2 linked regions of the Homo sapiens genome follow. The protein of the gene in region 1 purifies or fractionates together with the protein of each later gene. This does not show direct contact. Each region holds a gene or a part of one and is shown on either strand. Other genes may lie near its edges.

Evidence for each region.
Region 2: the proteins of POMP (region 1) and PSME4 fractionate together in Homo sapiens (co-fractionation; one large-scale study listed by IntAct). This does not show direct contact.

The regions. Positions count from the first base shown.
Region 1 is NC_000013.11:28,669,037-28,672,858, forward strand, and holds part of POMP (proteasome maturation protein), read left to right. Parts: intron 1-3,302; coding exon 3,303-3,396; intron 3,397-3,822. UniProt on the Homo sapiens protein: Molecular chaperone essential for the assembly of standard proteasomes and immunoproteasomes. Degraded after completion of proteasome maturation. Mediates the association of 20S preproteasome with the endoplasmic reticulum.
Region 2 is NC_000002.12:53,918,767-53,922,588, reverse strand, and holds part of PSME4 (proteasome activator complex subunit 4), read left to right. Parts: intron 1-4; coding exon 5-72; intron 73-1,484; coding exon 1,485-1,700; intron 1,701-2,238; coding exon 2,239-2,396; intron 2,397-3,342; coding exon 3,343-3,438; intron 3,439-3,822. UniProt on the Homo sapiens protein: Associated component of the proteasome that specifically recognizes acetylated histones and promotes ATP- and ubiquitin-independent degradation of core histones during spermatogenesis and DNA damage response.

The sequences.
Region 1 (3,822 bases):
AGCTGATATCTTTAACCCCTCTCTGCTTGCTCTGTCTCAGCAGTAGCATTTGAACCGCTGTTGTCTTTTAAAACAAAAAAAAATTGTATCAATTTCAAATTCCTTTATAGTAACTTGTCTCTCATTGAGTGTGCTTTTGCTTCTTGAAAAGTTGTCTACATTTGCTTTCTATACTCCTTTCCCTGCTATTTATTTAACCCACTGTTTCTGTCTCCCATGACACCAATGAAACTGCTCCTGAACAATGTGGACATTTTTACCTTCACTTTACTTCATCTCCCTGTAGTATTTGACACTAATAATGGCTTCTTCCTTTTTCCCTTGGCTTTTATGTTTTTACTTTGTATTTATTTTTTTGATACAGGATCTCATTCTGTCATCCAGGCTGGAGTGCAGTGGTATGATCATAGCTCACTGCATCCTCAAACTCCTGGGCTCAAGCAATCCTCTTGCCTCACTCTCCTGAGTAGCAGGGACTACAGTCACTTGCTACCTCGCCTGGCTAGTTTTAAAAATTATGATTTGTAGAAACGGGCTCTTGCTATGTTGCCTAGGCTGGTCCTAAACTCCTGGCCTCAAGCTATCATCCCACCTCCTTGGCTTTTAGAACACCACACTTTCCTGATGTCCTCCTTTCTGAATCCTTGTTCTCAGGTGTCTCTGTGTAGGTTCCATTTGTTTTGCCTGTTTCCTAAAATGCCAGTTTTGTTAGTGCCCCATCTCTAGTCCTTTCCTGACCCTATTTCCTACTTGTTGCTTTAGTTATCAATTATATGTTGATGATTCCAACTGGGCGTGGTGCCTCACACCTGTAATCCCAGCACTTTGGGAGGCCAAGGTGGGTGGATCACTCAAGCTCAGGTGTTCAAGACCAGCCTGGGCAACATGGCAAAACCCCATCTCTACAAAAAAAAATACAACAAATGTGCCAGCCGTGGTGGTGCACACCTATAGTCCCAGCTACTCAGGAGGCTGAGGTGGGAGGATCATTTGAGCCTGGGAGTCGGAGGTTGCAGTGAGCCGAGATCGTGCCACTACACTCCAGCCTAGGTGACAGAATGAGACTCCGTCTCAAAAAATAAAATATGTTGATGACCCCCAAGTTACAATTCTCATGAGCTATAAACCTATAGGCTTTTCCAATTGGAAAGCCCAATTGGAAGTCCCACAGGCACCTCCAGTTTTACATGGACAAGTACAGAATAACTCATAATCCCATAATCCCCCACATACTCCTTATCCCATATGAATAGGTTTCTGCCTAAGGCAGAAATTGGATAATTAGCCTTGGTTATGTCACCTAGCACCCATCCTAACCTCTTCCCCTGCTCCCCCAAATCATTCAGTTTATTACTTGCTCTCCCCACCATTGCTACTATGCTGGTCCTTGCCCCTGTCAGACTTCATCTGGATTACTGCAACACTCATCCCTGCTGCCCCTCCAATCCTTGTTAAGACTCTAATCAGAATAATCTTTGTAAAACACAGATTTGATTATGTCATTCCCCTCACTTTACCCTCTAAATAAAAATAAAACCCAACACTTAGTGTGGCTCTGTCCATGAATTGGCTCCTTGCTTCCCACCACACTTCTTATCCTCTTAAACTACTTGCAGTTTCCTAATTCATTAAGTTCTTTCACTGTTAGGCGTTTGCACACATTTCTCCTACTGGTGCAGATTCCTTTCTCTGACCTAGCTAAATTGTCTTTTTCAATAAATTTCTATTGGCCGAGCTGGGTGGCTCATGCCTGTAATCCCAGCACTTTGGGAGGCCGAGGCAGATGGATCACCTGAGGTCAGGAGTTCGAGACTAGCCTGGCCAACATGGTGAAACCCCGTCTCTACTAAAAATACAAAAATTAGCCAGGCCTGGTGGCATGTGCCTGTAATCCCAGCTACTCGGGAGGCTGAGGCAGGAGAATTGCCTGAACCCAGGAGACAGAGGTTGCAGTGAGCCAAAATCACACCATTGCACTCCAGCCTGGGCGACAAGAGCAAAACTCCATCTCCAAAAAAAATAATAATAAGATAAATTCTACTAATACTATCAATTGTATTTGGCTAAGTCATTCTGGAAGCTACTCGTTTTCCAAAGATAAAGCTCTTAAAAAACATGGTTTTGAGTAACCTAGGGTTGAATCTTGGCTTAGCCATCTACTAGTCTTAAGAACTTGAGTAAGCTGGAGAGCTTTCTGAACCTTAGATTTTTTAATTTAATGTGAAATAAGGAGAACAGTAAGAGTAGCATAGGATTATTCTGAAGATTAAATGAAATCACATGTTTGGCACAAAATTGTTAGCTTCCCTTTTTATTTTCCTCTTACTCAGATTTCAACTACAGATTGCTCAAATTCTGGATTTAAGTTTTTAATACTATTTGATCCAAATATCTTTGCCCAGAATTCTCTGTCTTTTTTTTTTTTTTCTTATCTCTATACTTTTGCAGTTTTGGGTTGTCAAGATGTATAACAGCTGCCTGCTCCTCCCTGCTTTTGATGCATTCTTAGGACTGTACTCTGATCTAACTACCAGACCCCTTGCTGTCTGGTTTAATTTACAGGTTCCTATTTTTGTTTCTTCCTCTTCCTCCCACTTCCTTTTTTTTTTTAGGTTTGACAATCTAGAGAAATTTTTCCACACTATAAAGATTTTAAATATCTCTATGGAACATTAGTAATTGAAAATAATATATTTAGTCTGGATACATTTTGTTGGGGGTGGGGGGAATGTGAGAAACTGCCCTCTTAGATTCTAACGGTGTGATTATCTTTAAAATACTACTATCATTTAGTCAAAGACCACCTATTTTGGTAGTCTGTGGGAATATCAAAAATTATCTGCATTAGCTGGGCTTGGTGACATGGACCTGTAATCCCAGTTTTAGTGGGAGGATCACTAGAGCCCAGGAGTTTGAGACCAGCCTAAGCAACCTATTGAGTTGGACTTTCTTCAGGAATTTGATCATCCTACATGTATCAGGAATGAGGCGTGATGTTAAGCTCTGGGATTTTGCATTTCATTACATGGTATATGCCGTAGTTTTCCTGAGCAGAAGCAAAGCCTCAAAATACATGCACACCAGGTAGGATTATTGTTAATGAAAAGTATAATTTCAGTGTCTTTACAACTTAGTTTGTGTCTAAAATATGAACTAGTGTTTTTTTCCACTTGTTAAATTGATCTTGTATTTGGTTTTGCGAATTTTCAAACAAAGAATAAAGAACATGAAATTAGACTATATATTCTGTCATTTTCCCCTGAGTTTTTTCTAATCTTGTCCCTTCATACTTTTCCCCAAAGGTTCAGCGTCTTCCATTTCTTTCAAGCTCAAATCTTTCACTGGATGTTTTGAGGGGTAATGATGAGACTATTGGATTTGAGGATATTCTTAATGGTAAGTGTCATTCAGCACCTTTTTATGGAGCCCTTGTAATTTAAAAGGCAAACAGCTGCAAAAAGAATAGGCAAAATTCTTGTCCTCATGGAACTTACAGCTGATTGGGTTCACTTTATTCATTGCATTAAGATAAAGTTTAATGGTAGTAACTGTTCTTTAACTGTTTTTAAAAGTGAAGATTGGCTGGGTGCGGTGGCTCACGTGTAATCCCAGCACTTTGGGAGGCCGGGGTGGGCAGATCACCTCAGGTCAGGTGTTTGAGACAAGCCTGGCCAACATGGTGAAACCCTGTCTCTACTAAAAATATAAAAAGAAAAAAAGTGAAAATTATTTATGAAATTCTAAGAGTACATAGTCATTTCAGTCTAGTAATGGTGGTTATTCACTTCATGTCCTGAGCTTCAAGTGTAATATGTCAGTCTG
Region 2 (3,822 bases), on another chromosome or scaffold:
TTAGATGATGATGTATTAAATGATGAAGAGCTAGACAAGGAATTACTATGGAATCTTCAACTTTTGTCTGAGGTATTGTAAATCTTTGGAATAAGAAACATGACTGTGAAAACACTGACTTGCTTTTAGGATTTAGCTCTTTCTGACAAAATGACTTTAAAACATATGAAAAGTCAGAGTTTTGGAAATTTGATGAGGCTTCAGAAGATCAGAATATGTCATACTCTTATTGTCAAAGGAGTGGTGTAGTTGATCACTGCATGTTCAGCCATCTACTTAGTTTTACCAGTTAATTCTAATATGGGTAACTCATTAATTGAAAAAGTTGATCAGATTTGGGAATTTTTTTGGTCTACACTTTAAATTTGGCCATCAATCAAACTTCAGTTTTCTTTTCTTTTCTTTTCTTTTCTTTTTTCTTCTTTTTGTCTCACTATCGCCCACGCTGGAGTGCAGTGGTGCAATCTCGGCTCACTGCAAACTCCGCCTCCCAGCTTCACGCCATTCTCCTGCCTCAGCCTCCCAAGTAGCTGGGACTACAGGCATCCGCCACCACGCCCGGCTAATTTTTTGTATTTTTAGTAGAGACGGGGTTTCACTGTGTTAGCCAGAATGGTCTCAATGTCCTGACCTCGTGATCCGCCTGCCTCAGCCTCCCAAAGTGCTGGGGTTACAGGTGTGAGCCACCGCGCCTGGCCCAAACTTCAGTTTTCTTTTTTTTGAGACGGAGTCTCGCTCTGTCGCCCAGGCTGGAGTGCAGTGGCACGATCTCGGCTCACTGCAAGCTCCGCCTCCCGGGTTCACGCCATTCTCCTGCCTCAGCCTCCCAAGTAGCTGGGACTACAGGCGCCCGCCACTACGCCCGGCTAATTTTTTGTATTTTTAGTAGAGACGGGGTTTCACCGTTTTAGCCGGGATGGTCTCGATCTCCTGACCTCGTGATCCGCCCGCCTCGGCCTCCCAAAGTGCTGGGATTACAGGCGTGAGCCACCGCGCCCGGCCAACTTCAGTTTTCTTTATCATTTTTTTCAGAAGTTTAATTAGGGCCAGGCGTGGTGGCTCACACCTGTAATCCCAGCACTTTGGGAGGCCGAGGCGGGCGGATCACTAGGTCAGGAGTTAGAGACCATCCTGGCCAACATGGTGAAACCTTGTCTCTACTAAAAATACAAAAATTATCTGGGCATGGTGGCGTGTACCTGTAATTCCAGCTACTTGGGAGGCTGAGGCAGGAGAATTGCTTGAATAGAATAGACTCTTTTGAAAGGGATGTTACTATGGTGCATGAAAGCTTAAGCTCAGAAAATGTGTTTGATTTCAAAAAACAATTAATTATTAGAATGCAGTTAAAGTGACAATCCTAAAATTAATTAAAGTCATTTAGAGAAACACTAGGTTAGTGGCCAAACATTGAACTTTGCATTAATGATTGGTTCTTGTTCTTTTAACCAAAATATCTTCAACTATTTTTTCCCTCCTTTTAGATTACTCGAGTGGATGGAAGGAAGTTGCTTCTTTATAGGGAGCAGCTTGTAAAGATTCTCCAAAGAACCCTACATTTAACCTGTAAGCAGGGTTACACTCTGTCTTGTAACCTTTTGCATCATCTTCTCCGTTCTACCACACTTATCTACCCTACAGAATACTGCAGTGTGCCAGGTGGCTTTGACAAGCCTCCTTCTGAATACTTTCCTATCAAGGCAAGCATTTTCAGTACTTTAGGATTCAAGAATATGTTGATTTTTTGTTTTAAGGGATTCAAAGTGTTATTTTTTCTTGCATATGTTAGTTTTTTACTTTTAAGATAGATTATTGAAACTATTATTGGAATATGTGAAACTTGTGCTGTCTCACTTTGCATGGAACTGAAACTCTAGTTTTCTTTCCTATTGATATGTGAAACAACTTCGTATATATTCCTTATCTAATGTCTATAGTTCAATATAATTTTATTGCTAAACTAAGCCTCACTTAAACTCATCATCACTCTTACAGTATCACTCTTAGAGCAAACTCATATTATAATGAGTACTCTTCGGGGAGACTTTTTTCAGGAGTGATAACGAAGAGGCAGTAAGATGTTGTTTTCATGCTACTTTTTTGTATATCATTTGCTACCTTAGGTTTGGATTATGTGTACATTTTCTTTTAAATTTTAAAAATTGTGTATATGTATGTGGGTTTGTTGTTGTTGTTTTTAATTTCTCAACTTGCTGAGTAGATGCTGTTCTCTTCTAGGACTGGGGCAAACCCGGGGACTTGTGGAATCTGGGAATCCAGTGGCATGTTCCTTCTTCAGAAGAAGTGTCTTTTGCCTTTTATCTTTTGGACTCCTTTCTTCAGCCTGAGCTCGTCAAACTCCAGCATTGTGGGGATGGAAAACTTGAAATGTCTAGGTTGGTTTTATTTTATAATTAGAGTTATTCAGTTGCAGACTAAAGAAGTCTTTTTTGGCTTTATCTGTGGCATATCTCATGTATTAATTTTCAATTGTGTTTTGAAAATCTGCTATACATGTACTTAGAAAATCATTTAATATAATGTTGTATAACAGAAAATTTAACAACATTTAAACATTTTAAACCCAAAAATTGTGGGTTTCTTTTTCTAATTTTTTTTATTACCTTCTACTTAGCAATTTCACTTGTCTTTTGGAAGGTGTGTGTAGATATGCCTCCTTTGAAAGGAATGCCTGTTTTCCTAGACTCAGCTAAGATTTTATTGGGTTCTCAAAATTTTATTTTAAGAATTATTTTTATGAGATTTTTTTTTCCCTCTCCCACAGGTATTTAACAAGAAATAAGTATTTGAAACCATTAGACTTTCATAGTTTGAAAGTTTCTAAAATAATAGCAAGAAAATTAATGTATCAAACACCACAAATTTTTCATAAGCAGATTTAAGAATGCACTTGGAGAAAGAAGTGTGACTGACTAACATCAACTCTGTCGTACTCTGAACTGCTTTTTGGAAGTAAATGTTTAGTCCCATTTTTAAAAGATGGAATAAGCTGGAAGATCTTCTGTAGCATTATTTCCTCTTTTTGTTAGTGGCAGTGGTCTTTGGTAAAGGGATGCTTAAATTAACAGTTGTTTCACAAAGGGCAGTTAATTATTGTTACTTGTGATTTACTTAGAGCCTGTTTAAATGTAAGCAGGCATAGTGTTAGCAATAAATATATATTTAATTGTTCTTCACTGTTAAGTTGGTAAACTGAAGACATTTGCTATTTCTTTACCTTAATCATTTATATCCCCACGTGAGAAAACTTCTGTGCTAGGCTCTAGCAGGCTTATTAAATAGGGATTTGGAAATATGAAAATGTCTTTTTTTTTTTTCTAGAGATGATATTCTACAGAGTCTGACTATAGTGCACAACTGTTTAATTGGCTCTGGAAACCTCCTACCTCCGTTGAAAGGAGAGCCAGTTACTAACTTGTAAGTAAAAATAACTGTTTTCCACTTAACATATATTTTAAGTCTTAGTCACTTAATGAGTTATTGGTTTGTTGTTGTTATTGCTTTTATTTCTGTATCACTTTAACCTTTTTATTTGTCACTGTTAAGGTCAAAAATACCAGAGGTACAATTTAGATTTATAAACCTGAAGGCTTTATTCAGATTTTCACATGGTACCAGGATAGAATAACTTTAGGTATTAATTTTAAAATATCAAATGTGGAGATATTAAGTTAGTCTCTTAGTTTACTGAGTTAATTAAGATAAATGCTGTTCTTTTAAAAAGGAAAAATACTGCTTTGTTTTGACTGTAGCAAATGTTGATTCAGAATTTTGTAGCAAAAAACTTTAAAAAAAAAGATT